Linked DNA regions of Homo sapiens: regions 2 and 3 are each reported to be linked to region 1. Evidence: microRNA targets listed by miRTarBase, many of them from high-throughput screens and not tested one by one. Region 1 holds a microRNA gene; each other region holds the end of a gene's coding sequence.

Region 1 (7,193 bases):
GTGCTGGCACCACAGGCGCAGGCCATGTGCACAGCCAAAGACTTTTTCTTTTATGGGGAGGAGTAAACAAGGTTAGAAAGAACCAGCTGTGGGAAAATAAGATGCAAGGGCTATTGTACAGGACAATCGACCAGGGAATGTTTTATTCTTCTCAGGAGAGGTGCTTAAGGAGGGGCTGTATTCTGGCTGAGGCTGTGGATGGACTGAAATTCAGAGGCCTGGCAGTGAGGAGAGTAAGTTAGGTTAAACAAGCATTTTGTTTCAATTGATCACTGGGGACAAAACAGTTCAGTTAATCATGTACGAGACAACGAAATGGGAATTTGGAGGGTCTATGTCTGCCCTTGTCTTAGACAAGGGGTTCATCCTCAAGTCTTATCTAAGTCATATACGGAAGGGTGGTTCTTCTCAGTAAGCCATCTCCTGGAATGCAAAAAAGCGGGAGGATTTCTTTTTTGTTGTTAGTTTTTTTTAACTTTTTGTAGAGACAGGGTCGTGCTATGTTGCCCAGGTTGTTCTCAAGCTCCTGGGCTCAAACGATCCTCCCACTTTGGCCTCCCAAAGTGTAGGGATTACAGGGGTCAGCCACTACACCTGGGCCGGAAAAGTGGGGGGATTTCTTCACTGTCGCTGTTGTCCACACACGCAAGGCTCCGGTAAAATTCCGCACTGTTGCAAAGAAAGATGCTTTGCTGCTGGGTGGAGAACTTTTTTTTTCTTTTTTCTTTTATTTATGTATTTATTTATTATTATTTTTTGAGACAGTCTTGCTCTGTTGCCCAGGCTGGAGTGCAGTGGCACGATCTCGGCTCAATGCAACCTCTGCCTCCTGAGTTCAAGCAATTCTCCTGCCTCAGCCTCCTGAGTAGCTGGGACCACAAGTGTGCACCACCATGCCCAGCTAATTTTTGTATTTTTCATAGAGACGGGGTTTCACCATGTTGGCCAGGATGGTCTCCATTGCTTGACCTCGTGATCCACCCACCTCAGCCTCCCAAAGTGCTGGGATTACAGGCATGAGCCACTGTGCCCAGTCTTTTTTTTTTTTTTTTTAACAGGTTCTTGCTTTGTCACCCAGGCTGGAGTGCAATGGCACAAACATGGCTCACTGCAGCCTCAACCTTTGGGTTCAAGCAATCCCCCCGCCTCAGCCTCCTGAGTACCTGGAACTACAGACTACAGGTTCATGCCACCACGCCCAGCTAATTTTCTTTCTTTTCTTTTTCTTTTCTTTTTTTTTTTTTTTTGAGACAGAGCCTTGCTCTGTTGCCCAGGCTGGAGTGTAATGGTGTGATCTCAGCTCACTGCAACCTCTGCCTCCTGGGTTCAAGCCATTCTCCTGCCTCAGCCTCCCAGGTAGCTGGGACTACAGGCATGCGCCACCATGCCTGGCTAATTTTTTTTGTATTTTTAGTAGATGAGGTTTCACCATGCTGGCCAGGCTGGTCTTGAACTCCTGACCTCAAATGATTCGCCCGCCTCGGCCTCCCAAAGTGCTGGGATTACAGACGTTGAGCCAAGGCGCCCGGCCCCACCTAATTTTTTTTTTGTAGAGACAGCATCTTGCTATGTTGCCAAGGCTGGTCCCCAACTTCTGGCCTCAAGCGATCCTCCTGCCTCAGCCTCCCAAGTATGTAGGACTACAGGTGCACACCACCTCACCCACTAATTTTTTTTCTTTTTTTTTTTTTGAGATGGAGTTCCACTCTTGTTGCTGAGGCTGGAATGCAATGGTGCGATCTCAGCTCACTGCAACCTCCGCCTCCCAGGTTTAGGGGATTCTCCTGCCTGAGCCTCCCAAGTAGCTGGGATTACAGGCGCCCACCACCATGCCTGGCTAATTTTGTATTTTTAGTAGAAACAGGGTTTCACCATGTTAGTCAGGCTGGTCTCGAACTCCTGACCTCAGGTGATCCACCCACCTTGGCCTCCCAAAGTGCTGGGATTACAAGCGTAAGCCACAGCACCCAGCCATTTTCTTAAAAATTATTTTTTGTAGAGATGAGGTCTCATTATGTTATCCAGGCTGATTTCCACCTTCTGGGCTCAAGCAATTCACCTGGCAAAGCCTCCCAAAGTGCTGGGATTGCAGGCGTGAGCCACTGCACCCACCCTGTTATCTTTATTACTGTCTTTTTCTTTTTTTTTTGAGATGGAGTATTGCTCTGTCGCCCAGGCTGGAGTGCAGTGGCGCAATCTAGGCTCACTGCAAGCTCTGCCTCCTAGGTTGAAGTGATTCTCCTGCCTCAGCCTCCCGAGTAGCTGGGACCACAGGCGCCCGCCACCACACCCGGCTAATTTTTCATATTTTTAGTAAAGACAGGGTTTCACCGTGTTAGCCAGGATGGTCTCAATCTCCTGACCTCGTGATCTGCCCACCTCAGCCTCCCAAAGTGCTGGGATTACAGGCGTGAGTCACCACGCCCGGCCCTCCCCACCTCCCCCCCCCTTTTTTTTTTTTTTTTTTTTTGAGATAGCGTTTCAATCTTGTTTCCCAGACTGGAGTGCAATAGAACAATCTTGGCTCACTGCAACCTCCGTCTCCTTGGCTCAAGCGAGTCTCCTGCCTCAGCCTCCCAAGTTGCCGGGATTACAGGCACACGCCACCACACCCAGCTAATTTTGTATTTTCAGTAGAGATGGGGTTTCACCTTGTTGGTCAGGCTGGTCCTGAACTCCTGACCTCAGGTGATCTGCCCGCCTCAGCCTCTCAAAGTGCTGAGATTACAAGGCCGCCTCTCCCCAGCTGCTTCTCTCAAAGACAAGATGCACAAGCCAGAGGAAATGTTTCGTTTTATTTTTGCTCATAACCTCCCAAAAAAATCAGTACCCCGCCATCCCTCACCCAGACACAGCCCCTCTCCAACACCTTCACGAAACACTGATTTTTTTTCTTAGAGCTAAAATGAACACCCAGTCACCAACTACAGCCCTGCCCTGCCCCTCCTCCCACTGGCCTGCTCATCTTCCCGCACTGCAAACCTGGCCGCCTTTAGCCTCCCTCCCTTAGCGTAGTGTCCCAAGGTCACCTAGCCTGCTTTTTGCCTGTAGGATATGGGTCCCCTTCTCAAAGCCCGCCCTGACTTACTTCCTCATTTGCATAGTCCTTCAGCTCTATCCTGTCGCCACTCCACCCACCCCAGACAACCACCTGTAAGAAACCAGGTTTGAAATTCAAGAGACCAGGTTTCCAAGCTCCCAGCTGCTTCCCTGTGGGCCTCGGTGCCTCGGCTGTTATGTGACGGGCATAGACATTGACTAAGGCCAAACATTTCATGATTTGGACGAGAAAGGAGGGAAGGAGATCCAGAAATACGCAAGAGAGGTGATAAGCAGAGACAGAGGATAAAAGGATAAGAGTAGAGAGGAGTTGGGTGGTTTGGTGGGGAAGAAGGGTTGATTTTTTTTTTTTAATAGAGACAGGGTCTTACTATGTTGCCCAGGCTGGTATTGACCTCCTGGCCTCAAACGATCCTCCTGCCTTGGCCTCCCAAAGTGCTGGGATTACAAGCATAAGCCACTGCACCCGGCCGAGAGGGGTTTGGAATGAAGGTAGAGGCAGGGGGATGAAGGCGCCAGAGCTGAAGACCAGCCCCCAGAAGCCACACCCCTGCCCTTCTAGCAGCTACGGGTCCTCTGGCTCCGGGCCTTGTAAACCTCGATGAGCAGGTCCTTGACGTACTGGATCTCGCGCTCCACGGACTCTGCCCGTTCCTTCAGCTCGCGATTCCGTGCCTCCAGCCCCTGGCACTCGCCCTCCAGGGCCTCACCCTCTGCCCGCTTCCGCTGGCGGTACCTCAGAGCCGCCGACTTGTTCTGGTCTCTCTTCTTTTGCTTGCGGTCCCCTCGGGTGGTGGCAGGATGTGGGTAGGGGGCCAGGCGAGAAGGTTGAGGTGGAGAAGGAGGAGGGGGCTGCTGTGGCGGGGGCAGAGGCGGCATCCCCACTTCCTCCTGCCCGGCCTCGTTGCGGCAGTAGATGGCCAGCAAGTCCAGAGTATCCAAGACAGGGGGCTGGGGGAGGTCAAAGGAGGGGAGGGACAGGGGGAGGGAGGGGGCTGGTGGTAGTGGTGGTGGTGGTAGTGGCGGCGGGGAGGGTGGTGGGAGGGGCGGGGCATCTAGGAAGAAGTCTTCCATCTGTTCCAGCTCCTTCTTGAGGAGGGAGGCCATAGCTTCCAGGTCAGGTGGGGTTGGGGAAGGTTGGGGGAGGGTGCCGGGGGGTAAGGGAGGCTCCAGAGGGAGGAGAGCTGTGAAATCAACTCGCTCAGTCATCCAGTCAGAGAAGCCATCACCTGGGATTAAAGTGGGGAGGGACACAAAATTCCCTGAGTTGCTGGTCTTCTGCGTAGTTGGGTGCTGACTCACGTCTCATTCAGGTGCATCTGTCCCATTCATTCAGTAAAACAACTAACCACTGAATCATCAAACCAGTCAATAAACCAACAAACCAGTGAAGAAACCAATAAACCAGTCAACGAACCAACCAACAATCAACCATCTAACCACCCAGTCAACCAACCAACCAACCAACCAACCAATGAACTAGTCGACCAATCAATCAGGGAATCGGTCAACCAACCAAATAAATCAGTCAACCAACCAATCAACCCATTAATCAACCAATGAACCAGTTAACCAAAACCCAACAAATTAGCCAATGAAAGAATCAGTCTTAACCCATAAGAGGGTCCAGGAGAAAAAAAAAATTAAAAAAGAAAAAAAGAACCAGCCAACCAACCAATGACTCAAGCAACAGTCAACCAAGCATTTCTTCAACCATTCCAACATCTCCTTTACCGAGTACTCTGTATCTGTGGTGTCTCTATTCTCTCTTTTTAAAAGGCAAACTAGATCACATTACACACACAGATACACACGCACATATGCCTTGTTTCATCTTTACTCATTAATTATTGAAAACCCACTATGTGCCAAGCATTTGGGATACAGTAATGAATGAAATGATTCCTGCCTCCTGAGGGCTTCTGCATATACAGTTCCCTCCAACTAAAATGCTCTTCCCTTGGGTGTTTTCCTCATTCCTTCCCTACTTTTTTTTTATTTTAAGGGATAGGGTTTCACTCTGTTGCCCAGGCTGCAGTGCAGTGGCATCATCTTGGCTCACTGCAGCCTAGACCTCCCAGGCTCAAGCGATCCTCCCACCTCAGCCTCCCAAGTAGCTGTGACTACAAGCGTGAGCCACCATGCCTGGCTAATTTTTTTTTTCCTATAGATATGAGGTCTCGCTATGTTGCCCACGTCCTGAACTCCTGGACTAAAGCAATTCTCCCCGCTTGGCCTCCCAAAGTGCTGGGATTACAGGCCATCATGCCTGGCTTCCTTCCCATCATTTATGCCTCAGTCAACATGTTACCTACTTGGAGAAGGTTTTCTGGCTACCCATTCTATATTAGGTCCCCTTTGTCATTTTGTAGCTCAGCTGCTAGGTGTTTTTGACTTATTCCAATACACTCTCATTTAATTTATCTCTGGTCTACTCCCCACAGTGTGAGCTGCTGGAAGGCACAGACCATGTTCTTCTTGTTCCCAGCCGTATCCTCAGCACCTAAAACAGTGCCTGGCACATTGTAGGCACTCAATATTTATTGAATACATGGATGAGTTCTTCCTCCCCCATCTTCCCCTGCCCTCCACTCCCCAGCTCCACCTTCCACCTGCCCTTACCTGCCAGGGGCTCTCCCCCCACTGGAAGCCCGCCCTCCAGGGCTCCCCCAAGGACCTCATAGGGAGCCAGGGGGGCAGGGGCCGGGGGGAGTTTCCCATAGTCTACGAGCCATCCCAGCCCACTAGCTGGGAGCAGGGCCCTGTCCAGCTCCAGCCCCAGGGTCGCCAGGAGTGACATGGCTGTAGCACAGGTGCTGGGCACTGATGGCAACAGGAGAGGCTGCACCAGCAGCTGGCACGAGGCTCTGGAGGATGCTCAGGTGGGCGAAGACAGGCACCAAGGCGAAAGTGGAAGACCTACACGCGTGAGACAAGAGTGGGTGTGGTCAGGACAGCGTCATCCACCGGCCAAAATCAAGGGGAAGCCAAGCCACACCCCCAGGCACGTCCATGAGGCTCCTCCCTCCCCCTTCCAACCACCGTTTAGAACACTAAGCCTCAGCCTCTCCGAATTCTAAATTTGCCCTTTCTTTACCCAAATCTCTGAGCCCCACCCACTCCCAAGGGAATTTCTTTAGGTCCTAAAGTAGGACCGATGCCCCACCCCTTCCCCCAATACAGAAAAAAAAAACCTAAAGGTCTCCCAGGGGAATTACCTTAGGCCCCTCCCATCCACCTCAGAATATTTCGCCTCAAGGAAAAACTCAATCCCAGGGACATTTTCTTCCAGCCACGCCCCTTCCTCTAAAATATTTCCTTTTGGCCCCACTGCCTTCCTAGCTTCCATCCCAAACCAGTTCCCAGGGGAACTGCCCCAGGCCGCAGCCCTTCAGCAATGTTATCCACTCAAATCCCACTCCTCGCTCTGCCGCTGCCCCTCCAAGCCCCGCCCCTCATTGTTTATTTAGCTCCGCCCCTCCCCCGATTCCCCAGAGGCCCCGCCTCTTTGTCACATCGAAACCCCACCCCTCAACTAACGGTTGGTTTAGCCCCGCCCCTTCTCACAATGTGCTTCCGAAATCCCACCCATCGTGACGACAGTGGTTCTATCCCCACCCACTTAGAGGGTTGCCTCTGGGTCCCGCCTTCTGCCCTGTCAATCTAAGCCAGTCCCCGCCTCAGCAGGTGCCTGGTTTAAAAGGAAGGAAGCTGGGCTGTGAGCCAGAGCAACGTGGGGCAGGGAGGGTGGAGGAGGGTAGAGGGGGCACGCGGAGAACGGCTACCCGAACGCCACCCGTCCACACGCGGCTCTGCGCCGAGGGCCAAGGCGCATGCTACGTCGCCCGAGCGGTCCAATTGCCTTTACACCTCCGCCCTCTTGGGGATCAATGCGCATGTGCGGCCATTCAGGGTCCGCAGCTCTTTCACTACGGGGCACTGGTGGGCTACTGCGCAGGAACAACCAAGCACGAAGAATCGTTTAGAAAAAAAAAAAACACACCCTCCCCTGGAGTGCTCAGGCCCAGCTGCACGCGGGCTGACAAACATCGAGTCTAGAACTCTCCCACCCGGCCCCGGGCCCAGTGCGCATGCGCAGCCGCGCGCCTTCGGCCCACCGTACTACTTCTGCG
Region 2 (7,193 bases), not on the chromosome of region 1:
CTTGGGGAGCGGGAAGTCTACTTGGCAATCCTGGCTGGGATACACTCCAAGTCACTGGTGCCTGTGTATGTGAAGGTGAGGCCTCAGGCTGAGGGCACCCCCGGGAGCACCGGCAAGCGAGTGTCCACCTGCCCCTTTTGCTTTGGCCCCTTTGTGACAACTGAGGCCTATGAGCTGCATTTGAAGGAGAGGCACCACATCATGCCCACAGTCCACACGGTCCTGAAGTCTCCCGCCTTCAAGTGCATCCACTGCTGTGGGGTCTACACGGGAAATATGACCCTGGCTGCCATCGCCGTCCATTTGGTGCGCTGCAGAAGTGCTCCCAAGGACAGCAGCTCAGACCTGCAGGCCCAGCCGGGTTTTATTCACAACAGTGAACTGCTTTTAGTCAGTGGTGAAGTGATGCATGATTCCAGTTTTTCTGTTAAGAGAAAGCTGCCTGACGGCCACTTAGGGGCCGAAGACCAGCGGCATGGGGAGGAGCAGCCTCCCATCCTAAATGCCGATGCAGCCCCGGGTCCAGAAAAGGTGACGAGTGTTGTGCCTTTTAAAAGACAAAGGAATGAAAGCAGAACAGAGGGACCTATTGTCAAGGACGAGGCTCTTCAGATTTTAGCATTAGATCCTAAAAAATATGAAGGCCGTTCTTATGAAGAAAAGAAGCAATTTCTTAAAGATTATTTCCATAAGAAACCATATCCTAGTAAAAAGGAAATAGAACTGTTGTCCTCACTCTTTTGGGTGTGGAAAATTGATGTGGCTTCATTTTTTGGAAAAAGAAGGTATATTTGCATGAAAGCAATAAAAAATCACAAGCCTTCTGTACTTTTAGGCTTTGATATGTCTGAACTTAAAAATGTGAAACATAGATTGAACTTTGAATATGAACCATAAAACTTGCAAAAAAAAAAAAAAGTAACTCTAAAGTAGTAGGTAGATTTTTTTCAGTTGAAATTTCACAGTGTTGTCCTCACTGTGTTGGTGAATCAACCTCAGTGGTCACTGTGCTGCTCTGCAGAGTTACTTCAGGTGCTGGAGAGACCCCTGTTACCAGGAAGCCAGTAGTTATTTCACATCTATTGTTTCCTGCAGTTTGATTTGTAACAGAACAGTTGTTTTCAGGTTTTTTTCTCTGTCATGTAAATGAAATCTTTTGATATTTCATGCACGCCTTGTTTTCCCACTAGTGTCAGTATCGTATGATAAGAAACTGAAATCTATAAATAATTTGCTTTTTCATTAAGGACATTTCAGCCTTTTTCAGAATACTTGATTTAACTGCGAGTGGAAGCATCGATCTCCTTCAGCTTTCCCTGTAGCAGCAGATGGTACAGTGAGTGTTCAGAGACGTGGGTACAAACCCTGTGATGTATGTATAAGGCTCCCTGAGGATGCACTGCATTAACTTACGCTGACTTCTTTGTAAGATCTTTGCTTATAGATTATAATTTAGATCTGTATTTTTTTAGGTTTATCCTAATAGCTGTTTTTTTTTTTAACCATAACTCATAGAAAATCAAATGTTTTTATTTGTTAAAAGTAGACTGAATTTGACATCTGGTATGCTGGTATGTAGCTCATACATCAAGAGTTATTTTACAAATAAATTTATTCTGTAGATGCAGAAATATTTTTCAGTGTAGATTTTCCCTTTTGATATGCTAAGTCATTTCTCCGTTCAGAGGTAAAACAATAAATTTTTAGTGCCTTTAGAATAAACATTGAAAGAATACACCCCAAAACTCTTCTCCTAACTTAACTACTCATAAACTAGTGAAAGGGAAGGTCTATGATACTCAGGAATAAGATTATTGCCCCTGAGTGTGAAAACTAACTTAAATTTCAGCATAGGGTTTCAGGGGACATGGCGAAGTTTACAGACTGAGATCTCAGTCTCCATGGTTGGTACAGTAAGTCTTTGACCACATTTTCTGAAGGTCATGTTTAGTGGAGAAACGGGCTTTTCTCTAGCTGGTTTAGGCTGGAAGCTGTGTCCGGGTCGATGGGATGGCATATTGTTAAAGAATCTCCATTGTCGTCACTGTCCTGTGGATGTTAAACCTCGTTTTTTTCCCCACACGATATTAAAACTTAAAGCACCAGAACCAGTCATGGAGACCAGCCAGTTTAGATGGTAAGTCATATTTCTGGTGGTACACAGCAGAGGAACCCCTTCACTCTATCTTTAGGTAGAAATATTTGGAGGATGTGACAGCCTCTGAGAAACATAATGTTACTATGTGGATTTTAAAAAATATAATACTTGCATGTAATTGCTATAATGTTCATATTTGAGGCAGTTGTGAAACTGGTTTATGATTGTTGGTGTACTCTGTTGTAAATTCAAAGAGAGCTTGTTGAACATTTTTTTTTTTTACCTATTGTTTTCAGAGTGTCTATTTTGAATTAAAATTTGTTACACCGCTGCAAATAGAACTGTTTAATTCTTTTAAAAGTTAAAACATTATTGTGAATCATAGGGATAACCTCTATATGGGAATAGATACCACATTTATTTTCTAAAAAAACCTTACCTGTCATTTGTGTGAAAATAAGAACATAACCCAAAAGGTCTAATTACTGGGGTCACAAAATAGGTGTAACTACAGATTCCTGATGATTCTATACTGGTAGCCCCCAAAGTGCCAAAGAAGGTATGTAACTGGGGTGTCAGTGCTGTGAAGTTTCCTTCACTGTGGCTGTGTTCAGGGTGAGTGTGGAGGAGGTGCTGATGAGGAGGCAGCTGCCGTCTGGCGTGGTTGAATCCTCACCTTCCTTTTGTTGTGTACGTTAGGGTTTCCCAGCCTCAGCACTGCTGACATTTTGGGTCAGGTAATTCTCTGTGGTGGGTGGCTATTCTGTCACTGTAGGATGTTGAGCAGTGTCGTTAGACACTAGTAGCACGCATGTCCCTACTCTCTCCCCATTGTGGCCACCAAAAATGTCATTACCAGGTGGTCCCTGAGGGGCAGAATCTTGTCAGAACCCTGGTAAAAGAGCTGATTTCTTGGTGCAGTTTAGCTGTGGTAGAACTGTTCATGCTGTCTTTAATGTTATGCTAGTTGCTGGTTACTAGTTTTTTAGGATTAGAGATTAAGATTTGATAGAAGCTGAGCTTCAAAAAGCACATGTGGGAGTTCTTGCAAATGTAAGAAATTTATTATTTGAAAATGAAAAAATGAGTAACAGATTAATAGTTGTGAACAAAGTTTAAACTTATTAAATTTAGAAGGAAGGAGTTTTTTAAATACAAAAAATTGTGTACTTTAAAATATTTAATCTACCTATGTAGCAGCAGCTTTAAAAATACTACACACTTGAAATCTATTCAGGTAAAACACATTTAAATATAGCATACTATTTTAGCTTCTCTGAATTTTGTTGCTCTTCTTTTTTTTTTTTGAGACGGAGTCTCGCTCTTTTTCCCAGGCTGGAGTGCAGTGGCACAATCTCGGTTCACTGCAACTTCTGCCTCCTGGGTTCAAGCGATTCTTCCACCTTAGCCTCGCGAGTAGCTGGGATTATAGGTGCATGCCACCACGCCTGGCTAATTATTGTAGATGGGGTTTCACCGTGTTGGCCAGGCTGGTCTTTAACTCCTGACCTCAGGTGATATGCCCGCCTAGGCCTCCCAAAGTGTTGGGATTACAGGCATGAGCCACCATGCCTGGCCTAAAATTTTTTATTGTAAACAGAATCTTGCACTGGTGCCCATGCTGGGATACAGTGGTGTGATCATAGCTCACTGCAGTCTCGAACTCCTGGGCTCAAGTTGTCCTCCTGCCTCAGCCTTCTAAGTAGCTGAGGTGCCTACCCATCATGCCCAGATTATTTTAAACAGTTTTTGTAGTGATGGAGTTTTGCTGTGTTGCCCAGGCTGGGCTTGAACTCTTGGCCTCAAGCCATGCTGCCACCCCTCAGCCTCCCAAAGTGCTGGGATTACAGGCATGAGCCACCAGGCTGGGCCTCTGTTACCCTTTTTTAGCAGCTATTTTAGTCTGATGACTGTTGTGTGCAGTTTCTTAGATTCACTAAACAAAGCAGCAGTTAATTAAGCACTAATTAAGAAAACTTAGCCCCAGAACTGTCCTAATTTTCAAGGTCTTTTTAGAAAATAGCACACATGTACTAACTGCTTGATATTGCTAGGAAAGGGGCTGCATACTTGATGATAGTCATCCTTGCTGCCTCCTGTGCCTGTGGCATGGCCATCAGCATGCGTTCTCACATTGAGTCCTACCGAGTGAGTGGTAGTCTCCCCTCTCACACCTGAGGAAATTGAGGCATGGAGGTAAATGACTTGCCTGAGGTGGAGGCCTGTGAGGGTGGACAGTGCTAGAGTGATAGCTGAGTGGCTTCTAACATGTATTATCCCATTTAAATCTCACAATAACCCTATAGGTATTAAGTTGTCTGTGTTTTCTAGAGGAAGAAACAAGCTCAGAGGCAGAGTTGGCTAGCTGTCCCAGTTTGCTAAGAACTTGAGTGATTTCTCTAGACTTCAGTGCTAAAAAGGAACCTCTTAGGCAGAGGGACAAGCTCGTTACTCCACTCAAATTTCAGTTTGCCCAGGAAGACATGTTGCTTCTCAGTGGTACAATATTATCGTTAGACCTGTACATTGCCCTTTGGGTATCAGGGTGAATAGGGCATCCTGATCCTAGACATCCTTTTTCTGGTGGTGCTGTCAACAATAACAACATAGAGATGGTTACCAGAGCAGTTCCTATGTGCCAGGTGCCATTCTAAACATTTTGCATGTTAAATTTGATAGTGACAATATATTAGTGACGAAGAATGATAGTCCTGAGTTAGTGAAAACAACGATAAAAAAATGCATGCAGTTTTGCTGTTTAGATTCTCTCTGCTGAATTTTCATGAACTAAGCAACAAAATTGCCATCTATGAAGTACTGCTGGAAGTTTCTCTTATGGTTATTAAGTGTCCAGTTTCTTCAAGCTAATTTCTTTTCATAGGTGGTGAAAGTAAGTGTGAGATGTTTCTGATGATGAGGGCTTACTTGGTAGCACACCTGCTAACTCAGGCTTCTGCAAGTTCGGCTTTCTGTTGTGCAGATGCTACACCACAGCTTTAGAATTCTGATTTTTGATCATTTGTCCTAAGTACTAAGTCTTTAATATTAACTGCAAGTTTAAATGTCATTTTAGCAATATAGAGGTTATGTAGGGAAGCTGTTTTCATATTTTGTGAATGTGCCTAAAAATACATTACTTAGAACAGTACCCAGCCCTTCACTTTCTTCAGATCCTAAACTCAGGAGTTTCTTAATTTATGATCCATGAACTCCCTTGGGTAAAAAGTGTAAATATGTGACCTAGAAGGTTGGAAAAATGTTAAAGTCTAGAATATTATCAGATTTTTCATAATAGAGAGTTAAAATGAGAATGTACTTAACTACCAACCTCAAAGACCTATGCTTATATGGGGACTGCTGTCTAGGAGACCACCTTATAAAGTAGATGAAACGCCAGAGCCTGTGGTGTCTGAAAGGGATCTTTAGGCCCATCATGGTGTCCAGTTCAAAACAAATACTAATACCAGTCATTCACGCAAATGATTCAGCTGTGCATTTTGAGAGGAAAAATATATGTAAGGTTGCTAAACAGTAGCTAGTGTTGTTCTTCATGGCCTTTTAAAGAGGGTGCTCCAGACCCACTTATCTTCATTTTGCTCATCACCAGCAACATGATTTCTTTTTTTTTGCATGCTCATCTCTGAACTAAACATTATTTCTTTTAAAAAAGAAAATACATAAAGTCCTTTTCAGAAGGGAACTTTCCGATAAGAATTTAAGATATTTAAAGTGTAAACTAAACTTTGGCAGCCACATAGACGTCTATGTTTGCTGTATGCAAACTAAGCTGTGAGGTCATACTTTCAAATACAAATACAGAATTAATTGCAATGAATCAATGTATTTTTTTTCCAGAAATTGTGTAGTTTCCTACAGTTTTGAACCCATGATATGGAAAGTTTAATGTTAAATAATTTGTCATTCACCTAAAAGTGCACTAGAAAAAATAGAACATTAGCAATGAATCATAAGGCTTTAGTGGTTCAGTGGTTCTTCTGACAGTAATCTTTCTGTGTTAGATGTATGTGTATCTCGAAAGAGTCATAAAATTCATAAAAACATCCTGTGAGAGTCACAGATCCATTCACTCGTTGGACTTCCTGGCCTCCTACCAAGCAGCTTGTTTAGAATGGGAAGACTGAATATATGGAAAAACCACACAAGACAGTTTGCTGAAAATAAAAACAATTCAAACTCCAAGCATCACATATATATAATTAGGATCCCAAATTTGGACTCTTATAAGCTACAAATGCTTGAAAGAGTCCCTGTGTAGGCCCAGATTAGACGTCTCATTACAACAAGGAAAGTGATCTTTGGTCCTAAAAAGGATGGGAGATTCATCCACCGTTTGTTATTATATTGTGGAAAACAGCTTATGAAAATAACTGGGAATTTATAAGAGGTCATTTTAAAGAGATTAGGAATTTTTTAGGGAAGGTCATTTTTGGCTATTAAAACATTTTTCTAGGTTTTATATGTGCTTTCAAATGATTAAATATATCAGTAAGACTACACGAAAGGAGAGGACAGAATTGAAGGGGAGGGCAAGGATTTTTGGAATGCACTTGGGAATTCCAAGTTCAGCCCTGCTCTGTTGCCCTGCTCTGTCCCCTGCTCCCATTTCCAGCCCCACGACCCCTTTGGGATGAAGCAGCTTGGGTGTCTAATTGTGTTGGTTCTAAGGCTGCCACTCTTCTGGTTATGTCTCACATGTTGTTAGAAAATTGATAACCTCATCCCAGAACTGCACATTGTATTTACAGTGGTTCTCTGTACCCCCATTTCCTAGTCACAAACGACTTCACTTCTGACTTCATTTTTTATTCATAGGTGATAGTAGTGATCATCTTTGTCTAATAAGCTCCTAATTGAGAAGTGAGCAGAATACATCTGTATCAACTCCCAGTGCTGTACATTTTCTAGCCATTTCCTAGCTATTTGTAGCATCGGTTTTTTGTTTTTGTTTTTTTGCTTTGATATAATATTCCGTGTTTAACTGGTTTGATAAATTAGGGTAAAAGTTGAGATACTAAAAATAGATGTGTTGCTACTAAAATGCTAAACATGGTTTCAGTTCAGTATCTTATGAAAA
Region 3 (7,193 bases), not on the chromosome of region 1:
CTGGGATTACAGGCATGAGCCACTGGGCCCGGCCGACTTCTCTTAACCTCAGTCTCTTCATCTGTAGAGTGGGGCTAGTAAAGGCCCCTGCCTCATAGATTCATTGGAGGCCTAAATGAATGTAATTCATGCACAGCACTCAGAACAGTGCCAAGAACATGTATCACTCCATATGTTGGTTAAACAAATAAACAGAGGGTGGCTAAGAGCAAGGATGATCCAGACTGCCCGCTCCGATGTGCTTAACTGTCTGTGCCTCGGGGTCATCACCTAGAAAATGGAGCTGTGGGGACGGATTCGTGAGCTTCAGGCACACAGTGAACACTCAGCGTCCCTGCTGCTGCCGCTGCCGCAGGCCCCCACACCCCCGGCTATTTCACACACGCTCATCCCTCCCCTCTCTCACCCGTCCCCCTCTCCACCGCCACCCCGCAGACTGCTGTGTCCACTGCATCCTGTCCTGCCTGTTCTGCGAGTTCCTGACGCTGTGCAACATCGTCCTGGACTGCGCCACCTGTGGCTCCTGCAGCTCGGAGGACTCGTGCCTCTGCTGCTGCTGCTGTGGCTCTGGCGAGTGTGCCGACTGCGACCTGCCCTGCGACCTGGACTGCGGCATCCTGGATGCCTGCTGCGAGTCCGCGGACTGCCTGGAGATCTGCATGGAGTGCTGTGGGCTCTGCTTCTCCTCCTGAGCCTCTGTCGGGGGCTAAGCCAGCCTGGCGCCCCTGCAGATTCCAGCAGGGTCCCTCTGAGTGGGGCCAGGCCCAGGACTGTCACACAAGGCTTGAGAAGCCCCCTCTCCCTGGTCCTCTCCTACCCACCCATGTCCTCTCAGAACCCCAGCCTTGAAAATAGTGGGGGGCACTCAGAGGGGCCACCTCCTCAGCCGTGGGTGGTGGGCCCATGGCAGAGAAGCCTGAACTCTTTACTGGGTTACCAGGTTCATACATTGCTGAGGACCTGACAGGACAACCTAGGGGCAGGGCTGGGGTGGGGACCGCAGGGGGCAGCCAGGGCTGGGGAACACTGTGAAAGTTACTTGGGGAGGGTGGGCCGGTGGGGCCGTAGCTCTCTACCTCTCCCTGCTCCTGGTGCCTGCCTCTCTCCTCCACCCCAGGCTTAGAGGACAGAAAAATGTGAAGAGACGCCCCACCCACCCTCAGCCAGCCCTCTCCAGTCTCCTTTCCTAGGCTTTTTTGGGGGCCTAACCCACGCAGTGACCCCAGAGGGCAGGGCTAGGCGAGAGCCTGGGGTGGGGCGGGAGGGGGAACAGTATGGAAAAGACTGGAAGGGGAAAGGAAGGGAAGGGAGGGAGGGTCTGTTCTATCTGTTGCTGTAAATAAAGATATTTGTCCATCTCAGATTTCCTCAGGACTCATGACTAATTGCCATGGACCCTGACTCTCAAAAGCAAACGCCCCCTACCACCGCTAAAAAGCACCCACATGGGTGAGGCTGCCCTGCCCTCTGGGGGCCCTGCCTCTTCTGCTTTCTTACCCCAGAAACTGCCCTGCCCTTCACGTTCCCCTCCCTTCTTCATGTTTCCCACTAAGGGAAGAAGGTTAAGGGGGTGCTGTCTCCCACCATTATTTCCTTCTTCCCACCAAGGGGAGGGGAAGCCCAGAGGGAAGAGTTAACCTTGGCATGGAATTAATTAACAGCAGATGTGTTCGGGTTTTGATTAATTAATCTCCTGCTGACTTCAGCTTCTCCAGCTCTATCCCATGAAGTCGCTCCAAGGCATAGGTGATGCCCATGACAGTGCCAGAGGGGTGCCTGGGAGGGGGCTACTCCAGGCCTGGGGCAGCCCAGACTTGCCCCTGGGCTTCACTGGAGGCCCAGTGGGGGTCACACACCCAGCCTCAGGCATCCCCCTATTGCCAGGCGTCTGAGAAAGAAGGAAGCCTTGTCAGGACTGCATGGGCCCCTACGGCCATCTGTGGGGCGGCCTTGGAGTGCAGAGGGAAGGGCCTGAGAAGCAATGGCGGCTGTGAGGATCGCAGGGCCGCACTGGGGGCAGCTGGACCAGCACCCCCCACACATATCCTGGACCTGGAGGAGGCCAGGAGAGGTCCAGGGGGCATGAGAGGCTCTGGGACAGTTGGGGCAACTTGGAGAACACTCAGCTGATGAAGGCCTTGAGACGGGGGCTGCAGGGGTATTAGTGGGCACTGCTTCCAGGAATGAAGGCTTGGAGTGGTTCCGAGGGATTCTGGAAGGAAGGAGTGGGGACTGGGGAAAAGGGCCAGATGAAATCCAAACTCTCTTAAGGAATGTCACAGGAGGGAGCAGCCTATGGCCTTGGGAGTGGGTTTCATTGCAGCAGGAGGAGGAGGTTCTAACAGGCAACGCAAACTAGCCCCCCACCCCCTCCCCACTCCATCTCCACGCACACACGCCTCACTTCACCAGCTTCAAGGTTTTCTGACCTCTGAGAGCACACAAGAAATTCAGGACACAGAGAGGAAGGGACCTGCCTGGGGTCTCACAATCAAGCCGGTAGAGGGTCCCCGAGGCACCCCCAGCACTCATGTATCTATTTGTGCGTATTTTTATATATTTTCTTAGTTATTGCCTGCCCAAGGTACGGAAGGTTTGAAAGTCTGATCTGTGCACACACAAGCATTTACATGTATGTGTTTTCTTTTTTTACGAAGATGTGAGGATCCTGTACACACTGCACTGTACCCTGTTTTTCCCACCTGGCCATGTCTTGGGGAGCTTCCTTCCCAGCACATGGAGAGCTGGCTGAGTTGCCCTGGATGGATGCGCCACAGTCCAGGGACCCCCAGCTCTGCTTAATCCGCTCTCAAGCGCTTTGGTACAAACCAGGCTGAGCGAGGCACACCCTTTTGCATGAATGAGCTGTATCGGCAGAATGTTCGTGAATGTGGGATTGCTGGACCTACCATTGACAGGACTGCCTGGCTTTCCTCTGTGAGGGTGTTCCAGCCTCGGCTCACTCAGCCTCGGGGGCATCCACTTCTCCCACTGCCCTCGAGAGACAACGGTGGGAGGGTTTCCCATTCAGTCCTCAAGGCTGGGGTCTGAAGGGCGTTAGGGAGGCCAGATCAGGGGGTGAAGGGGCTCCTGACCAGCTCGATATCTGGTCCAGGTGGGCAGGAAGGCCTGCTCCTGGCCCTCCCTGCTCCGCAGGGCTGTGGCAGGAAGAGGCGCCTCTGCAATCCAAACAGCGATTTCCTGCTGCAGGCTCCAGGCTGTTTTCTTTAGGACAGTGGCTGAAACCCTAGAGGCTAAGCTGGGTTGGGGCGGGACAGGGGAAGGATTTAGCCAGCCCCCCAGCACACACACACACACACACACACACACACACTCACACACTCACACACACACACACTTCACACCTGTATGCACACACACATACACTCACACAGACTTTCCATACAGTCACGTACTCACATACATTCCGCAGGCTCATGCATTCCATCACCCGCACCACACACACACTCACACCACATCTACCCACACACGGACACACACTCACACATTTCACAGCCTGCAGCCGCCGCCACCCCTGGCCAGCCTGAGGCTGGGCTGTGGAGACTCATGCCTATCCATTCAAGCTTCGTCCCACACCTGCCCTGCCTTCCTCACCTCCCTGTCTTTGCCCAGGTGGCCCTGATCCCTGCCGGGCAGCAAATGGCAAAAGCCCTGGCTCTGGGCCCTTCCCTCTCCTCATGGTCTACCACAGGCTCCCAGGCTCTGCTTTCCAACGGCTGGGCTGAGCCAGGAGACAGTTTTAGGCCTGGCTGTGCTGTGGGCCCCGGGAAAGAGGCCCTTTCCTCCCCAAGCCTGTGTGTACGACGGAAGAGTGGGTAGACTGCAGCCACAGTGTCCAGGGAACACCTGCCTCTCTCCAGTCTTCTTTCATCTTTGGAGCAGCAGATCAGGCCACTTTTGCCTGGGAGACATCTTAAGAGGCCACCCCGCCCCCTGGGTTGTCTAAACCAAGGCAAGCACCCCCTGCTTGTGGGAGAGAAGGTGGTGAGGCCAAGTTTAGCCATCTGTGGCTAGTACTGTCCATGACCACTCAGTGATCTTGTGCGCCAAACCTAAGAGGGGTGGCCCCACGGCAGAGCAAGTAGCTGAACCAGGGGGTGGTTTGTGAGGGGAGGGCAATCAGCCGGACCCCTCTGCCTCCATAGTCTCCATCAGCTTCTCCCTGTATTTGGAACTTTAACTGGCATAGCCTGTTCTCATACTCAGAGCGGGGCAAACTGAGCTTCAGGCCCCATGGCCTCCATGGCTCCAGAGCTGCCAGGACAGAACACCGCTAAGCAGTTCTGACACTGGGCTGAGCAGGTCCATCCCTGCCCCGTGCCATCACCCTCAACAGCTTCACCTGCTCCCCAGGGTGATGGTCCGGTTGTGGGGGCTGGGGCTGGTCTCTGGGGTTTTCAGGCCAACTGCTGCACACAATCCCAGGGCTGAGCAGGGGGCAGCGGGACTCCACTTGTTGACCGAGCTGGAAAACAGCTTAGTCGTCCTTGGGGCTGGCCCTGGGCAAAGAGAGGTGAGGGAGAAGCAGGGACAGGAGGCTCAGGCCACAGTGGGGGAGTAGCGAGTCATGGGGACAGAGCTCACAGAGCCGGTCCCTTGTCATCTCTGTGCAGATGCTCCTCTGTGCTCTGACTTTCCTAGGCTGGTGAGGACACACGGTATGGGATGGCAGCCGCAGTCACAGCCCTTTCATCACCTCAGCCTCCTCTGGAGAAAAGCCATCTCCCAGCCCTTCCTCGCCTCTCACCTGGTTTCACCGCTTTCCCCCAGGCCGTAGCCACCGTCCAGTTCACAATCCCTGCCATCTCCGGGTCTGCTTCTTTCTGGGTGCGGGGCACATTTCCTCCTACTGCAGACAGATACATGTGGAGTGGGAAGGGGTAGACACACGGTCCACCTGGCACCGTCTCAGTTCTACTGCCTTGGGGCCACATAGCAAAGGCCAGGGAGGCACTCTGATTGGCCCCGCACATCAGCAGGCTCATCCCTGAGCCAATCACGGTGCCAGGGGACGGAGGGCTGTGGCTGGCCAGGCCTCATCGTGTGCTGCCTCTGTGGCCTGGGAGAGTGGGCTACTTGGCCACCCCTCCAGACCCTGATAGAATCAAGGAAGGGAAACCTCCCAAAGAGGTAGGGGTGTTATAAGAAAAACGAGGGGAAAGCTAACAGATTAAAACAACAGAAGTTACCGTGGGGTCAGACTACCACGGGTGGTACAGAGAAGTCCCTGAGTAGAGGAGACCCAGCTGGAAACCTCAAGTTGTCGAGTGCAGCTCAGCACATTTGGCTGGAGAAGAGAAGGCAAGAATGGCCTTCAAGTACCTGGAGCTTGAGTAGAGTGCGGCTTATGTTCAGCCTCCAGCAGGTAGGGGTAAGACCGAGAAGCAGACATAACAGAAAGAGCATTCCCAGCTCCAGGAATGAGAGAATACTCTGCTAGCAAGAACTGCCCCAGGAAAGATGGACAGCCACAGCAGGGGGCAGGGCTGGGGTCATCCCTGTTCCAAGGACTGTTCTGGGGGAGCCAGTGTAGATTAGGTCCCTGCCCAGGTACTGACAGGGCGGCAGAAAGGACAGATGGTGGAGAGTTTTTACAGGTGGTCCCACAATTCCTTCTAACTCAGATCTTCCATAGCTAACAACATAGACTGCGGCCATCTGATAAGAGAGAAACACGGGATTGAAGGTAGTCGGGGAGATGGAGTAAGATGAACAAAAGGAGACAGAGACAAGGAGGCAGACAGGAGGGTGCGGACAAACTAAGGCCCTTGGAGACGGAAAGGTGAAGCAGCAGGCTGAAGGCACACAGCCCCCGGCCCCTCCCAAGGTCGCCCGCTGTGGGCTGTGGGGGCAGTGGTGCCCCTTAGCCCGGATCCCTCCCAGGCATGGAGCCTCCGCAGAGCTGGGCAGCTCAGCATTAATTAGGACCTGGCTAATGGCTCGGAAGATTGGCCAGTTCTAGGGACGCTGATGAATAGAGACTGCGCTGAGATTTATTCCTAATTATCTCATTTGTCTCCCCCCATTACTCTTTATGGCTGGGATTTATGGGACCATTAGGGGGGCCCAGCCAGGCCAGGACGAGTGTGAGCCTCGAGATGCTTCGTGCTAATAACAATAACAATGGTCCTCTTGGCCCGGATTAATGGAGGACTGACTTTCTTGCCCTCCCCATCCCCTATTCTTGGGACCCCAGACACTAGCTTCCCCCATGTTCCTCTCCCGTCCAGGACCCCTGGCCCTCAGCCACCTGTGGAGTTCAAGCCTGTGCCCCCCTCTGCCTCCCGCTCTACCCCAAGGGCTCAAGGTAGTAGTGGGAGGACCTGATTTCAAAGGTAACACCTCTGGGACAAAGCTTGTATCAATATTGATGTGTTCGGCAGCAAGCAGCAAAGAACCCAAATAAATATGGCCTCAACTGTAAGGACATTTATTGTCTCCTTAACTAGAAATGCGGAAGTGGGTGAGCCCTGAGCTGATCAGGAAACTCCAAGACACCATCAAGGATCCTGGCTTCCAACCTCCTGCTCCATCATGCCCAGAATGTTGTCCATGGCTCCCCTCCTAGTCACAAAATGGCTACTACAGCCCCAAGCGTTGTGTCTTTACACATGGCATCCCTCGAGAACAAAAAGGGCAGGTGGGCTGGGTGCAGTGGCTCATGCCTGTAATCCTAGCACTTTGGGAGGCTGAGGCAGGTGGATTGCCTGAGCTCAGGAGTTCAAGACCAGCCTAGGCAACATGGCGAAACCCCGTCTCTACTAAAAATACAAAAAATTAGCTGGGCATGGTGGTGCATGCCTGTAATCCCAGCTACTTGGGATGCTGAGGTACAAGACTCCCTTGAACCCGGCGGAGGTTGCAGTGAGCCGAGATCACACCACTGTACTCCAGCCTGGGCAACAAGCGAGACTCTGTCTCAAAAAAAAAAAAAAAAAAAAAAAAAAAAGGCAGATGGAAAAGGGGGACTTCTCCTCCCTCACCTTTTACCAGAGCAGGGAGGGAACGATTTCCAGAAGCCCCAACAGGCTTCTACTTACATCTTTGCCCACACTGGATCATATTCCTTCTTAGGTTGGACTCCTCCAGAAGCTGACTCTAGACAAGAATTGAAGTGCAAATAATTTGCTTACGAGGGGGTTCCAGGAAACACCAGTAGGGGAGTGAGGAGT

The links. The annotated mature microRNA hsa-miR-4751 reads AGAGGACCCGUAGCUGCUAGAAGG and lies in region 1 at 3,615-3,638, opposite strand. An mRNA with a match to its seed (bases 2 to 7 or 8) in the 3' UTR can be bound and repressed. Matches are read on the target gene's strand: a 7mer-m8 pairs with bases 2 to 8, a 7mer-A1 pairs with bases 2 to 7 and ends in A, and an 8mer does both.
Region 2: the mRNA of ADNP2 is a reported target of hsa-miR-4751. Seed matches in the 3' UTR shown: 7mer-A1 at 970-976.
Region 3: the mRNA of MDFI is a reported target of hsa-miR-4751. Seed matches in the 3' UTR shown: 7mer-m8 at 805-811.

Annotation. Positions count from the first base shown.
Region 1 is chr19:49,929,518-49,936,710 of GRCh38, reverse strand. It overlaps MIR4751 (microRNA 4751), which reads right to left and starts at 3,647; the gene lies at 3,574-3,647. ATF5 (activating transcription factor 5) reads right to left here. Exons shown (of 3, transcript NM_001193646.2): 2 at 5,683-5,979; 3 at 2,776-4,289. The coding sequence starts at 5,860. The coding sequence ends at 3,619. RefSeq lists a silencer at 6,717-6,766.
Region 2 is chr18:80,137,913-80,145,105 of GRCh38, forward strand. It overlaps ADNP2 (ADNP homeobox 2), which reads left to right. Exons shown (of 4, transcript NM_014913.4): 4 at 1-2,434. The coding sequence ends at 897. Among named protein-coding and RNA genes, the nearest start is that of PARD6G-AS1, 6.4 kb to the right of the region's middle.
Region 3 is chr6:41,652,884-41,660,076 of GRCh38, forward strand. MDFI (MyoD family inhibitor) reads left to right here. Exons shown (of 5, transcript NM_005586.4): 5 at 436-1,361. The coding sequence ends at 692. Among named protein-coding and RNA genes, the nearest start is that of MDFI, 18 kb to the left of the region's middle. RefSeq lists an enhancer at 4,532-5,146.